Regions from separate parts of the Homo sapiens genome. Here region 2 is linked to region 1. Evidence: fine-mapped expression QTL. Tissue or cell type: whole blood. Region 1 holds a variant in brackets; the other region holds the start of a gene. All regions are shown on one strand. Distances are from middle to middle.

What was found. PIP is the estimated chance that this variant, and not a neighbour inherited with it, causes the effect.
Region 2: it holds the start of AVL9, and the variant in region 1 is fine-mapped to the expression of AVL9 in whole blood (INTERVAL, PIP above 0.99).

The regions. Positions count from the first base shown.
Region 1 is chr7:32,699,189-32,707,452 of GRCh38, forward strand. It overlaps the pseudogene DPY19L1P1. Among named protein-coding and RNA genes, the nearest start is that of MIR550A2, 30 kb to the right of the region's middle. RefSeq lists enhancers at 3,522-4,022, 4,023-4,523. The variant ACT/A (reference allele first, on the strand shown) is at 4,754.
Region 2 is chr7:32,491,831-32,499,830 of GRCh38, forward strand. AVL9 (AVL9 cell migration associated) reads left to right here and starts at 3,659. Exons shown (of 16, transcript NM_015060.3): 1 at 3,659-3,972. The coding sequence starts at 3,880. It also overlaps a transcript of LSM5 not described here. RefSeq lists enhancers at 3,173-3,382, 3,456-4,254, 4,255-5,053 and a silencer at 3,473-4,122.

The DNA.
Region 1 (8,264 bases):
AAAGGCATTGGTAGCTTGATGGGGATGGCATTGAATCTGTAAATTACCTTGGGCAGTATGGCCATTTTCACGATATTGATTCTTCCTACCCATGAGCATGGAATATTCTTCCATTTGTTTGTATCCTCTTTTATTTCCTTGAGCAGTGGTTTGTAGTTCTGCTTGAAGAGGTCCTTCACATCCCTTGTAAGTTGGATTCCTAGGTATTTTATTCTCTTTGAAGCAATTGTGAATGGGAGTTCACTCATGATTTGGCTCTCTGTTTGTCTGTTGTTGGTGTATAAGAATGCTTGTGATTTTTGTACATTGATTTTGTATCCTGAGACTTTGCTGAAGTTGCTTATCAGCTTAAGGAGATTTTGGGCTGAGACAATGGGGTTTTCTAGATATACAATCATTTTGTCTGCAAACAGGGACAATTTCGCTTCCTCTTTTCCTAATTGAATACTCTTTATTTCCTTCTCCTGCCTAATTGCCCTGGCCAGAACTTCCAACACTATGTTGAATAGGAGTGGTGAGAGAGGGCATCCCTGTCTTGTGCCAGTTTTCAAAGGGAATGCTTCCAGTTTTTGCCCATTCAGTATGATATTGGCTGTGGGTTGGTCATAGATAGCTCTTATTATTTTGAAATACGTCCCATCAATACCTAATTTATTGAGAGTTTTTAGCATGAAGGGTTGTTGAATTTTGTCAAAGGCTTTTTCTGCATCTATTGAGATAATCATGTGGTTTTTGTCTTTGGCTCCCAGTATTTTATTGAGGATTTTTGCATCAATGTTCATCAAGGATATTGGTCTAAAATTCTCTTTTTTGGTTGTGACTCAGCCCGGCTTTGGTATCAGAATGATGCTGGCCTCAGAAAATGAGTTAGGGAGGATTCCCTCTTTTTCTATTGATTGGAATAGTTTCAGAAGGAATGGTACCAGTTCCTCCTTGTACCTGTGGTAGGATTCGGCTGTGAATCCACCTGGTCCTGGACTCTTTTTGGTTGGTAAACTATTGATTATTGCCACAACTTCAGCTCCTGTTATTGGTCTATTCAGAGATTCAACTTCTTCCTGGTTTAGTCTTGGGAGGGTGTATGTGTCGAGGAATTTATCCATTTCTTCTAGATTTTCTAGTTTATTTGCGTAGAGGTGTTTGTAGTATTCTCTGATGGTAGTTTGTATTTCTGTGGGATCAGTGGTGATATCCCCTTTATCATTTTTTATCGTGTCTATTTGATTCTTCTCTCTTTTTTTCTTTATTAGTCTTGCTAGCGGTCTATCAATTTTGTTGATCCTTTCAAAAAACCAGCTCCTGGATTCATTGATTTTTTGAAGGGTTTTTTGTGTCTCTATTTCCTTCAGTTCTGCTCTGATTTTAGTTATTTCTTGCCTCCTGCTAGCTTTTGAATGTGTTTGCTCTTGCTTTTCTAGTTCTTTTAATTGTGATGTTAGGGTGTCAATTTTGGATCTTTCCTGCTTTCTCTTGTGGGCATTTAGTGCTATAAATTTCCCTCTACACACTGCTTTGAATGTGTCCCAGAGATTCTGGTATGTTGTGTCTTTGTTCTCGTTGGTTTCAAAGAACATCTTTATTTCTGCCTTCATTTCGTTATGTACCCAGTAGTCATTCAGGGGCAGGTTGTTCAGTTTCCATGTAGTTGAGCGGCTTTGAGTGGGATTCTTAATCCTGAGTTCTAGTTTGATTGCACTGTGGTCTGAGAGATAGTTTGTTATAATTTCTGTTATTTTACATTTGCTGAGGAGAGCTTTACTTCCAACTATGTGGTCAATTTTGGAATAGGTGTGGTGTGGTGCTGAAAAAAATGTATATTCTGTTGATTTGGGGTGGAGAGTTCTGTAGATGTCTATTAGGTCTGCTTGGTGCAGAGCTGAGTTCAATTCCTGGGTATCCTTGTTGACTTTCTGTCTCATTGATCTAATGTTGACAGTGGGGTGTTAAAGTCTCCCATTATTATTGTGTGGGAGTCTAAGTCTCTTTGTAGGTCACTCAGGACTTGCTTTATGAATCTGGGTGCTCCTGTATTGGGTGCATATATATTTAGGATAGTTAGCTCTTCTTGTTGAATTGATCCCTTTACCATTATGTAATGGCCTTGTCTCTTTTGATCTTTGTTGGTTTAAAGTCTGTTTTATCAGAGACTAGGATTGCAACCCCTGCCTTTTTTTGTTTTCCATTTGCTTGGTAGATCTTCCTCCATCCTTTTATTTTGAGCCTATGTGTGTCTCTGCACGTGAGATGGGTTTCCTGAATACAGCACACTGATGGATCTTGACTCTTTATCCAATTTGCCAGTCTGTGTCTTTTAATTGGAGAATTTAGTCCATTTATATTTAGTTAATATTGTTATGTGTGAATTTGATCCTCTCATTATGATGATAGCTGGGGATTTTGCTCGTTAGTTGATGCAGTTTCTTCCTAGTCTCGATGGTCTTTAAATTTTGGCATGATTTTGCAGCTGCTGGTACCGGTTGTTCCTTTCCATGTTTAGCGCTTCCTTCAGGAGCTCTTTTAGGGCAGGCCTGGTGGTGACAAAATCGGTCAGCATTTGCTTGTCTGTAAAGTATTTTATTTCTCCTTCACTTATGAAGCTTAGTTTCACTGGATATGAAATTCTGGGTTGAAAATTCTTTTCTTTAAGAATGTTGAATATTGGCCCCCACTCTCTTCTGGCTTGTAGGGTTTCTGCCGAGAGATCCACTGTTAGTCTGATGGGCTTCCCTTTGAGGGTAACCGGACCTTTCTCTCTGGCTGCCCTTAACATTTTTTCCTTCATTTCAACTTTGGTGAATCTGACAATTATGTGTCTTGGAGTTGCTCTTCTTGAGGAGTATCTTTGTGGCATTCTCTGTCTTTCCTGAATCTGAACGTTGGCCTGCCTTGCTAGATTGGGGAAGTTCTCCTGGATAATATCCTGCAGAGTGTTTTCCAACTTGGTTCCATTCTCCTCATCACTTTCAGGTACACCAATCAGACGTAGATTTGGTCTTTTCACATAGTCCCATATTTCTTGGAGGTTTTGCTCATTTCTTTTTATTCTTTTTTCTCTAAACTTCCCTTCTCGTTTCATTTCATTCATTTCATCTTCCATTGCTTATATCCTTTCTTCCAGTTGATCACATCAGCTCCTGAGGCTTCTGCATTCTTCACGTAGTTCTCGAGCCTTGGTTTTCAGCTCCATCAGCTCCTTTAAGCACTTCTCTGTATTGGTTATTCTAGTTATACATTCTTCTAAATTTTGTTCAAAGTTTTCAACTTCTTTGCCTTTGGTTTGAATGTCCTCCCGTAGCTCAGAGTAATTTGATCGTCTGAAGCCTTCTTCTCTCAGCTCGTCAAAGTCATTCTCCATCCAGCTTTGTTCTGTTGCTGGTGAGGAACTGCGTTCCTTTGGAGGAGGAGAGACGCTCTGCGTTTTAGAGTTTCCAGTTTTTCTGTTCTGTTTTTTCCCCATCTTTGTGGTTTTATCTACTTTTGGTCTTTGATGATGGTGATGTACAGATGGGTTTTCAGTGTGGATGTCCTTTCTCTTTGTTAGTTTTCCTTCTAACAGACAGGACCCTCAGCTGCAGGTCTGTTGGAATAACCTGCTGTGTGAGGTGTCAGTGTGCCCCTGCTGGGGGTGCCTCCCAGTTAGGTTGCTGGGTGGTCAGGGACCCACTTGAGGAGGCAGTCTGCCTCTTCTCAGATCTCCAGCTGCGTGCTGGGAGAACCACTGCTCTCTTCAAAGCTGTCAGACAGGGATATTTAAGTCTGCAGAGGTTACTGCTGTCTTTTTGTTTGTCTGTGCCCTGCCCCCAGAGGTGGAGCCTATAGAGGCAGGCAGGCCTCCTTGAGCTGTGGTGGGCTCCACCCAGTTCGAGCTTCCCGGCTGCTTTGTTTACCTAAGCAAGCCTGGGCAATGGCGGGCGCCCCTCCCCCAGCCTCGCTGCTGCCTTGCAGTTTGATCTCAGACTGCTGTGCTAGCAATCAGCGAGACTCCGTGGGCGTAGGACCCTCCGAGCCAGGTGCGGGATGTAATCTCGTGGTGCACCGTTTTTTTAGCCCGTCGGCAAAGCGCAGTATTAGGGTGGGAGTGACCTGATTTTCCAGGTGCCATCTGTCACCCCTTTCTTTGACTAGGAAAGGGAACTCTCTGACCCCTTGCGCTTCCCGAGTGAGGCAAGGCCTCGCCCTGCTTCGGCTCGCGCACGGTATGCTGCACCCACTGTCCTGCGCCCACTGTCTGGCACTCCCTAGTGAGATGCACTCGGTACCTCAGATGGAAATGCAGAAATCACCCGTCTTCTGCGTCGCTCACGCTGGGAGCTGTAGACTGGAGCTGTTCCTATTCGGCCATCTTGGCTCCTCCCCCTTAACCATTCTTTAAGGTTCTCTGCTAGCCACAAATTATTTTAATTTTCCTTGATTGGAGAATGTCTATTTCCCCTTCATTCCTAAGGGAAACATCCACTGGATATGTAATTCATCTTGACAATGTTCTGCCACAACCTTCTGGCCTCCTTAATTTCACATGAGAAGTCTGCTACAATTCAAGTCAGTTTTGCCTGTAGGTGATGTGTCATTTCTCCGTACCTGCTTTCAAGATTTTTTCTTTTCGTTTTAAAAGTTAACTTATAATGTATCTTGGCATGGATTTCTCTGGGTTTGTCTTACTTGGGAATGGCTCAGTGTCTTCACTCTGCAGGTGTGTCTTTCACCAAATTTGGGGAGTTTTTAGCAATTACTTCTTAAAATACTATTCAGCCCC[ACT/A]CTCTTTTTCCATTCCTTCTGAAATTTTGATGATACAAATATTAAATCTTTTGTTACTACACCATAGGTCCCGGAGGCTCTGTCCTTTTTCCTGTGATTTTCTCTCAATTTACATTGGGAGATTTCTATTGTTCTATCTGCAAGAGCAGTGACTGCTTCCTCAGTAATATTCACTCCGCTACCAAGTCCATTTACTGAATTTTAATTTTAGTTATTGTATTTTTCAGTTCTATAATCACCAAGTTGTTCTTTAAAAAAAAAAAAAATTCTGTGGTGAGATTTTATAGCCTTTTCATTTGCTTCCAGAGTATTTAAAACTGCTCATTGAAGTGTTTTTATGATGACTGCTTTAAAACCCTTGTCGAATAATCCCCACATCCTATTCATCTCAGTGTTGACATTTGTTGTCTTTTCTCATTCAAGTTGTTTTCTCCATTCTTGCTATGATGAGTGGTTTTTCTATTGTGTCCAGTACATTTTTTATATTATGTTAGAGACTGTGGATCCTATCTTAAATTTCTATTTCAGCAGACAGTCATTTTGTTTTTAGGTTTATCACGCAAGTCCTGGCCTACTTCTGTGTGCTATAGTTACAATGACAGTTTAGTTTTCAGAGTCTTTGCAATGCTAGTGCTATTGTGGTCAGCTTGATTCATCTGGTGCCCTGGTGCTCCGTCTCCACCCCAAATCATGCTGCCGATGCAGGAAGAATGTATTTCCCATGTCCTGTTGCCATGGGATAGAGGGTGAGAGACACCAGACTGTGGGGTAGGGGGTTGGCAGAGGGCAGAGGGCTCTTTCCTAGGGTGCCTAGTCCTAGCAGGGCACCTGTTAGATCTCCGCTGCTGCTACCTGCATGGGCAGCCTCCCTGGAGGGAATAGTAGATACCAGACCCACAGGATGGAGAGCATTTCCCTGGACCCTCTTTCTGATTGTCTTCTGCCACTGGATGGAGTTTCAGGAGGTGGCAGCCTGTGGTGTTTTTCTGTGAGTTCTGAGGTACCTAACTAGTCTGCCTTTCTATATAGCATTGGGCTGGGATTGGAGCTACAGTTATGAAATCATGATTTCATACACACACACACGTGTGCACATACGTGCAGTGAAAGGGCCTAGAAACAAGGACACACTGGTAGTAATAAGTGCACATACCACTCAGGTCTTGGTTTCCAAATACCATTCTCCTCTAAAAGGAACCAGGGCTCCTTGGAAAAAATGGCTGATTCCAAGGCTAGCACAAGGAAAATCAAGAAAAGCCTGGAGCATTATAAATTTATAAAGACATGTCAAAGAGACATCCAGCTTAGGAACATTCAAAACGGCTAGGCCCAGAACTGATATTTGTGTATAACATATGGTTTTTCTCATATAGATAGACTATTCCAGCATCATTTAGTGAAAAGTGACCTGCAAGACAATCTTGCTGAAATTGCTTTGAATCTGAACATCAGCTGGGGAGAACTGCATTACATGAAACTTCATACACATAAATGTGTTTTATTTTTCTATTTATGTCTTAGAATTATTAAAATAAATTTTCATACAAATACTATATGTATTTTGTTAGATTCATTCAGATCCTATGCATTTTTCTTCCTAATACATAAGGCATATTTTTAAAAAATATGTTTTCTGTTTGTTGCCAAAGAATAAAAATGCAATTGATTTTTGAATATTAAACATATCTAGCCATGGTATTGAATTCTTCTAATTCCTAATAAGTTGTCAATTATTTTATTCTTTCTAGGTAAATATTGATACTATAATAAATTTTCCTTCTTTCTGTTTCTTTCCTTTTCCTATTATTTACTTTTCTTGCATTACTAGGCTAGTTTGGACTTTATTTTTTTTTATTTTTTATTTTTTTCTTTTGAGACGGAGTCTCGCTCTGTCGCCCAGGCCGGACTGCGGACTGCGGACTGCAGTGGCGCAATCTCGGCTCACTGCAAGCTCCGCTTCCCGGGTTCACGCCATTCTCCTGCCTCAGCCTCCCGAGTAGCTGGGACTACAGGCGCCCACCACCGCGCCCGGCTAATTTTTTGTATTTTTAGTAGAGACGGGGTTTCACCTTGTTAGCCAGGATGGTCTCGATCTCCTGACCTCATGATCCACCCGCCTCGGCCTCCCAAAGTGCTGGGATTACAGGCGTGAGCCACCGCACCCGGCCTGGACTTTAATAAAATGTGAAAAAGCACATTTATCTTTATCTTGATTTTAAACAGAACACTCTAAATACTTTATTATCAGTAAGACTAATGACTGCTGAAGAATTTTACTGGGTTGAGAAAACTGTTATTTCTATTGTGTTACATGTTTTCATTATAAATGGATGTTCAATTTTATCAATTTTATTTTCTGCATCTAATGGGATGATCATAAGATTTTTTCTCTTTTAATCTGTTAGTGTGATAACTTACATTTTTGGATTTTCCAGAAATGTCTTTGGATTCCTAGAATAAGCCAGATTTATCACAAGTGGATTATCTTTATCATATATATGGCTGTTCTTGAGTTACTAATCTTTTATACTTTTGTGTGTAAGGAATGCTTTTAATCTAGGTGAAATTTTGAATCTATGCTCACAAATAAGAATATCCTTTCTCAAACTATCCTCATCTGGCCTTAGTACTGAGCTTTAGATTATCTTGGAGGTTCCATTTCCCTTCTTGTAATGATTCTTATGCCTCATGGCACACACAAAGTTCCCCTTTGTAAATTTCATATGAGCTCAATTCAATAATTACCTTGCCACCAAAAACTGGAGTCTCCCATTAAACAGTGAATTTGCTTCTATTGATGTTAAACTCTAAACTGAATCACTTAGATCTAAAAATACCTTGTGCAGGTTGTGTGTAATAAATACTTACCTTTGCCAAAGACATACAGAGCTAGAAACAGAAAATAATACCTAGGAAGGCTTAAAAAACATGTAAGCTGAACATTTGGTTAAATCTCAACTTTTCTCTCCTTAGATTTTTTGTTTCTTTGATATTCTTGAATTTAAAACTTAGTCAATTCATGTTCTTTCCAGTCTACTACTGAAAATATTCTTGAAAATGAAGACAGTAAATTTTCCTTTGAGTGCAGCCTTGGCAGAATTTTTTTGATGTTTATGGACACTCTTCTACTTACTGTCATTTTTCAATAGTTTGCAACTGAAATTCTGACCTTCTTTTGAGTTGTATTAAATTGCTCAATTTTTCTGAAGTGAAAGAATTATATATTACAAGTGTAATGTCGATATGTGAATTTCTACAAAGCCTGCATGCCTAACAACAGGTGGCCTGGGTAAAGAGTCAAATTGGTAGAACCAATAAAGAATAATAAAAAGACAAAAAAAGCATCATGTCATTCATTCAACAACTTACTGGACAAATCTTTCTATATTTTCACCATAAAGGATGGGAGAATGCCTCCAACAAGAAGAAAATAGCAACTCCTTACATTTTGTTCTCTTGTATTGTGGGTAGGAACCTACCTCCTCAACTTGTAACATTTCCAGACTTAT
Region 2 (8,000 bases), 210 kb before region 1:
CTAGCATTGCTAGCTGGTTTTGCATTCATCTTATTTTTATAACCAGACATAAGCCACTTTAAGGAAGCAATTTCTTATTTTATACACTGTGCACACTACATTTTCAGGCACACTGTAGGGCGCCTAATGAATATTCTTTAAATTGATTCTCACTATTTCATTCACACCCATCAACATTCTCCTTACTCTTCATAAGATTTTAAATACGAAGTAATGCCAGATTTGTTTGTGACGCTTCTTTCTTTCTCTTTCTCTTTTTTTCTTTTTGTCCAATCCTCATTTGGTTGAAAACCACCTCTTTTCCTGGTTTTCCTTTTCTATTCCTATTTTATTTTCCCCATACCATACTGACAGTATGGGAGAATTCAAAACATTGTTGTTATTTGATAGAGTTTTTAAAAATTAGAAAAATAGGCTGGGCACAGTGGCTCACGCCTATAATCCCAACACTTTGGGGGCCGAGGTGGGCGGATCACGAGGTCAAGACATGAAGACCATCCTGGCCAACATGGTGAAACCCCATCTCTACTAAGAATACAAAAATTAGCTAGGTGTGGTGGCACACGCCTGTAGTCCCAGGTACTCAGGAGGCTGAGGCAGGAGAATCGCTTGAACCTGGGAGGCAGAGGTTGCAGTGAGCCAATCGTGCCACTGCACTCCAGCCTGGCGACGGAGTGAGACTCCATCTCAAAACAACAACAACAAAAAAAAAACAGAATAAACATTAGCAATTTTGAATGCCACTAATAAAGAATAAAGAAAATCTCTTTAGAATCTGAAAAAAGGAACGATATATAGTTCACTTACATAGTAGAGTTAATGGGGATTTCAGGGAGTGGTATTTTTATTATTTTCTCTCCTGAGGCAAGACACAAAAAGGAAGAACAGGCCAATTCCAAATGGAGAGTTGTTATGAACTTGAAAATATGTCATAGCTCTATGTCTCAAGGATTTTTCTCCCTTTAAGTCTTAAGTAGAAGACGTAAAATAGAATTTATAATTTATCATAAAATACATGTAACTACCAAAGGCTCTTCCATGTATTATATGTTCAGAAAGGCATTTCTAATTTTCTCCCTCGAGTTAAATTAGAAATTTTATTATTTTCCCAATAGACATTTGTCCTTGTGGACAATATCTTGTTAATGAATTTATTCTACATTAATACAACTCATTTAAAACATAATGTAAGATGTGCATGGTGGCAGGCAACTGTAGCCCCAGCTACTTAGGAGGCTGAGGCAGGAGGATCCCTTGAGCCCAAGAGTTTGAGGCCAGCCTGGGCAACATAGCAACACCCCATCATATTTTATTTATTAATTTAGAGACAAGACCTCACTCTGTTACCCAGGCAGGAGTACAGTGGTGTGCTCGCGGACTCAAGCAATCCTCCCATCTCAGCCTCCTGAGAAGCCAGTACCACAGGCGCGTGCTACCAAGTCTGGCTATTTATTTTTTATTATTTTTTGTAGAGATGAGGTCTCATTACATTGCTCAGGTTGGTCTCGAACTCTTGGACTCAAGTGATCTACCCACCCTGGCCTCCCAAAGTGCTGAGATTACAGGTGTGAGCCGCCATGCCCCACCTATATTCTAAATTCTTAAGTGGTCCAGTCTGTGTATTTAGAGATGAAAAAAATCCTGGAAATTCCCTTGTTCACTTTCTGTCTCAATTTTCCCAGTAACTAACTTTTTCTTTCTCTCTCTCTCCCTTTCTTTATTTTTTTGAGATGGAGTCTCATTCTGTCATCTGGGCTGGAGAGCAGTGCAGTGACACCATCTCAGATCACTGCAACCTCCACCTCCCGGGTTAGGGTGATTCTCTTGCCTCAGCCTCCCTAGTAGCTGGGATTACACACACCACCATGCCTGGCTAATTTTTGCATTTTTAGCAGAGATGGGGTTTCACCATGTTGCCCAGGCTGGTCTCCAACTTTTGGCCTCAAGTGATCTGCCCGCATCGGCCTCCCAAAGTGCTGGGATTACCAGCATGAGCCACCACGCCTGACCCTCTTTTTATATATATCTTTTTTTTTTTTAGAGGAAATCTCGCTCTTGTCCCCCAGGCTGAAGTGCGATGGTGCAATCTTGGCTCACTGCAACCTCCACCTCCCGGATTCAAGCAATTCTCCTGTCTCAGCCGTCCGAGTAGCTGGGATTACAGGTCTAATTTTTGTATTTTGTACTAGAGAGGGGGTTTTACCATGTTGGCCAGGCTGGTCTAGAACTCCTGACCTCAGGTGATCTGCCTGCCTTGGCCTCCCAAAGTGCTGGGATTACAGGCGTGAGCCACCACACCCGGCCCTTATATACATCTTTAAAAGGTGTTCAATTAGACAGTAATTTTAGCCATGCCAATTGTGGAAAATATCAAGACAGGTTATATCAAGAAAATATTAATAGTTAACACATCACACAGCTGACAGCTCAAAACAGTTAATATATTAAGAAAACAGTTAATATATTCTGCATACAGGGAGCAATATAGTTTTACACAGTTTTCTTAGCCAATGCCAATAATTTTGTAATACAGAAAAGAAATGTATAGCAGCATCTTGAAAAATGTCTGCAGTATTAGCATTAAAACAGTTCTACTGAATCACAGAAACTAAATTTGATTTAGGAAGCCTACTGTTTTTCTCAGCTATGGTTAGATTAGAACAGAGCTCCTTACTTTTCAAGACCAGAAGTGCAAAATATCACAGTTACTGTAGTAATCTCGAATTCTATTTGAAGCAGACACCTATCCTTTAGGTTATTTGAAAACTGTCCTAGATAAGACTTGTTAAATCTTTTCTATAATGCACTTTAAATTGACATGAGATTCACTGCTTAAAAAAGAATTGTAGTACAATCAGTAAAGGAATTAAAAAACCCTGGTGACAACAGAGCCCATATATTTTGTATTGACCAGAGTACTACACCCAAAATGAGATGGAATGAAAAGAATATTCTTATAAAATCGCAGGACTAGAATAATCATTTTACACGTATCCAAGTAAACTTCCTTTGTTGTCAAGGATATTCTGTTTCAGGTTTTAAATGCGTCTCAGATTCCTACACATAATATTTAAACGAAGAAAAAAAAACTCTAGAAAGAAACAAACAAGAATTCTCGAGTAAGCAAGTAATTTAAAGGCTGAATACACAGATACGCAACCTCACCAGTATGCTCCATGTTACTACATATTTAAGAATAAGGACGGGGGCCACAGAGGCAAAGGCAAGGAGGTGAAGGAATCGGACACTCGGAGAGTGAACCGAAAAGATGTGAAAAAGCAAGGAAAACAGAAGAGAAGAGGGAAGTGGGAAAACTTTGAGGAAAAAGAGAAGGCAAAAGAGAAGGAAGTGCTTTGAGATTGAATCCAGGGAGGAAAAAGCAGGTGTGCCACGCCGCACCTCCAGGTCCCGCGGACACCACAGGCTCTGCAAGCCCAGCCGCCCGGGTCACGTAAGCCCCACCCCGCCGCTCCTCGTCAAGTCCCACCCGGACCCGCCCTCCCCCCGCTCCTCCCCCCGCTCCTCCCCGCCCCACAGAGTCGATCTCTCCTCTCCTAGACCCACCCCGCTCCCCCAGGCTCCACCTCGGCCTCTCAGACCCCGCCCCGTCAGGGCCCTCCCGGCCTTGCCCAGCCCTGCCTCGCCGGCGGCGGCCGCCGTGTCAGGTGACAGCCCGGAAGCTGCGGAAGCGGATGAGGGAAGGGCGGCCGTGGCCCTGGGGGCGGCGGGAGCTGCTTTGCCTCCACCGATCTCCCTGTGCGGCCCTCATGTGCTGTGCTCGCTGACACCCGAAGTCCGCGGCTTTCCGCACACGGTGGGGTCGTCAGACCCGCTGCCCTTGGCGGTCGAAGTCGTCGTGCGGGCCCGCGGCGGCCGCCCATGGAGAAGGCCAGGAGAGGCGGGGATGGCGTCCCCCGGGGGCCCGTACTGCACATCGTGGTGGTCGGATTTCACCACAAGAAGGGCTGCCAGGTGAGGAAAGGGCCCGCCCCCGCCCCCAGCCGTTCGGGCGTTCGCCCCTTCCGGGGCCCCCCTGCCCTGCTTCTGTGTGCTCAGCTCGCGTCGTGCAGTCCTCCCCACAGCGCCTGCGACCCTTCGCCTCTCAACCTGACTCCTTTTGCAGCTCCTCCCACCCGCCCCACATGAAGCCCAGCCCCCACAACCTCTTCCTTCTGCCCCTGAAAAATGGTTGAGCAGCGGAGGAGCTGGTTGATACGTGTAGGTTGTAGGTTTTTAACTTCTGCTTTGGTGGAGTGGGAGGAAAGCATCGAAGACCGGCCCCACTCTCTTCCCCGTCCATCATTGTCTCCACTGGCTTTCTGGGTGTCCACCTATAATGGGAGTCTAGAAAAATTCAGTGCTTGGACTCTGCTTTCAAGGTAATAGGCTCAGTGGGCTTGCATACTAATGCTTCAGGTAGCTTGCAGCACATGCAGCCTCCGTAGAAAAATCAGCTTCCTTTGTTTATCTGATGGAAGCCTTGGAATCTCTCCTGTTAGGTACGGTTGTCGATTGACTTTGCCTCCCCCTTCCCATTGGTCCTTAGTTTTGCTATTTCATCTTCTCCAGATTTTGCCTTTTGGTGAGAGATTAATCTCTCCATATCAACCGCAATAAGAGAAAGTGTATTACCAAACCGTTCAAATATAAAGGCGTTTTTCAGCAGCCTCACTGAATCATTAATGCAGCATCTGAAATGGAATATTTGCAATCTATGTATTGAAGGCAAGAGAACAAAATAGAAACAGGATTATTTAATGAGCAAGCAAACACTGGAAGGGAATGATGTCATAATGTGCTAGTGAACAGTAAATTGAAATGCTTTTTTGAAGTATTAAAAATAGTAATTGCCACCACTAGCTAATGAAGCATTTAGTTTCTTGCATTCCACAGGAAATGTAACATTTTAGAAGACTTATTGGCAAAAATTAAGTTCTCTAGGGAATAAGAGAAAAGTGATGGGAGTGAAAAAATCGTGTTTGTGCGTAATTTTGAAATATATCCTCACACCTGGAATGCCAGCACTTTTAGAGACTGATATGAAAGGCTCACTTGAGCCCAGGAGTTTGAGACCAGCTTAGATAACAAAGGGAAACACTGTCTCCACAAAAAAATTAAAAAATTAGTTGCATGTGATAGCGCACTTGTAGTCCCAGCTACTCGGTAGGCTAAGGTGGGAACATCGCTTGAGCCCAGGAGGCTGAGGCTACAGTGACCCTTGATCCCACCACTGCACTCCAGCCTGGGTGAGAGAGCAAGACCCTGTCTCAATCCCAGCACTTTGGGAGGCCGAGGCGGGTGGATCACCTGAGGTGAGGAGTTCGAAACCAGCCTGGACAACACGGTGAAACCCCGCCTCTACTAAAAATACAAAATTAGCTGCGCGTGGTGGCACATGCCTGTGATCCCAGCTACTTGGGAGGCTGAGGCACGAGAATTGCTTGAAGCCGGGAGGCAGAGGTTGCTGTGAGCCGAGATCACGCCATTGCACTCCAGCCTGGGCAACAAGAGCGAAAAAAAAAGTTTTGGAAAGTGTGTGTTACATGCATAAGTCTTAGAATGACTGGTCTAGAATCTGTTCTTTATAACCTGTACATCAGGTGTTTTCAGAGGCTTTAATTAAAGTATGTAAGATTTGCCCCAGGATAGATTAATCAGCTACCTAATTCTCCACTTTAACTATTTTACTTCCAGGTGTAAATTAAAGGTGCATGGCTCATTGAGTTGTGACTCTGACTTAACACGGTTTTAACTTGTGTGAGGGTACTTAGACTGCTCTTCCAAGTATTCAAAATTGCCGTGGGTCATGTTGACCATTAGTTCTTTTTTTTTTTTTTTTTCTTCAGATGGAATCTCACTCTCTCACCCAGGCTGGAGTGCAGTGGAGCTCGGCTCACTACAAGCTCTGCCTCCTGGGTTCACACCATTCTCCTGCCTCAGCCTCCCGAGTAGCTGGGACTACAGGCGCCCGCCACCGCGCCCGGCTAATTTTTTGTATTTTTAGTAGAGACGGGGTTTCACAATGTTAGCCAGGATGGTCTCGATCTCCTTACCTCGTGATCCGCCCGCCTCGGCCTCCCAAAGTGCTGGGATTACAGGCGTGAGCCACCACGCCCAGTCATGACCATTAGTTCTAAATGTGCGCTGAGATTGTGCATAGGGAAGATTCCTATACTTGGTCGTAATTTGTAACTTTTAAATAGAAGTGACTGAAGTAAAACCTTTGTTTTAAAAGTGATGCCTTTCAGCAGTCCGCTTGGTTAAGCATGATAACTTTGTCATTTGACATGGACCTCAAAGTAAAAGCCATCTTCTAATACTGCTGTGTTGAAGACCCAAAACTAGGCTTGTGGAAAATGTTAGTTCATTTTGTTTCTAGCACTTTTTCCACCTTTGAAGTCCTCAGATTTTTTTTTTTTTTTTTTTTTTTTGAGACGGAGTCTTGTTCTGTCACCCAGGCTGGAGTTCAGTGCAGTGGCGCGATCTCCACTCACTGCAACTTTCACCTCCTGGGTTCAAGTGATTCTCCTGCCTCAGCCTCCCAAGTAGCTGGGATTACAGGCATGCACCACCGTACCTGGCTAATTTTTTATATTTTTGGTAGAGACGGGGTTTCACCATGTTGGTCAGGCTGGTCTAGAACTCCTGACCTCAAGTGATCCACCCGCCTTGGCCTCCCAAAGTACTGGGATTACAGGCATCAGGCCAGATGTATTTTAAATGAAAAATTCCTTCATTTGAATTTAAATGAACATCTATTAACTTTATCACTTGATCTTTTTTTTTTTTTCACTTTTATTTGGGTAACTTGTGGAAGTAAATTCTTCTGTAGATAGCGTGTTAGCTTCTAGATGTCATTTTTCTAGTTTACTGATATACTTAACATTTAGAACATTTTAAGTGATTTTTTTGAGTTCTACCATAACATTTAAAGTTGTTTCAAAATATTTACTCATTTCAACTTTTTACTGAATTGTTTAAAATTTAATATTTAACAAGGGATAATAATTAACAAGGGATAATTTAACATTTAACAAGGGATACTAAGTGTGGCCGGGTGCAGTAGCTCATGCCTGTAATCCTAACACTTTGGGAGGCCGAGGCGGGTGGATCACCTGAGGTGAGGAGTTCGAAACCAGCCTGGACAACACGGTGAAACCCCGCCTCTACTAAAAATACAAAATTAGCTGCGCGTGGTGGCACATGCCTGTGATCCCAGCTACTTGGGAGGCTGAGGCAGGAGATTTGCTTGAATCTGGGAGGCGGAGGTTACAGTGAGCGAAGATCTGCCTACTGCACTCCAGCCTGGGCGACAATGAGTCCCTGTCTCAAAACGAAACAAAACAAAAATTTATCTGACATTAGACCCTTTGGCATGAAATAATTTATGGATACCTTCTCTGTAGTAAATTGGCTTGTTATAGATTGTGTATTCCAGAGTTTTGTTTGTTCCAATATATAAATTATACTTGTCGGACTACCAAAATTTTTTGCTAAGTAGCATCAAATATATATCACATTAACTCTGTTTTTTTTTTTCATAAACAGGTTAGAACTTTTTTAACTACTCAAGTTAAAAGGGAATAGGTTATTTTCCAAAGTGATGTCATAAAAAGTTGAAATAATTACTTAATTTTTGGCCACTTTTCTGATAGTTTATTGTTTTGTATACATAGCTAGCAGTTTTAAGTCTTAAGTAAACTGGATTTACCAAACTGTATTTCTAATACAAAAAAGGCAGAATAACAATTTTTTTTTTTAATTATACTTTAAGTTCTGGGATACATGTGCGAAACATTCGGGTTTGTTATATAGGTATACATGTGCCATGGTGGTTTGCTGCATCCATCAACCAGTCATCTAGATTTTAAGCCCCATATGCATTAGGTATTTGTCCTAATGCTTTCCCTCCCCTTGCCTCCCATCCCCCAACAGGCACCAGTCTGTGATGTTCCCCTCCCTGTGTCCATGTGTTCTCATTGTTCAACTCCCACTTATGA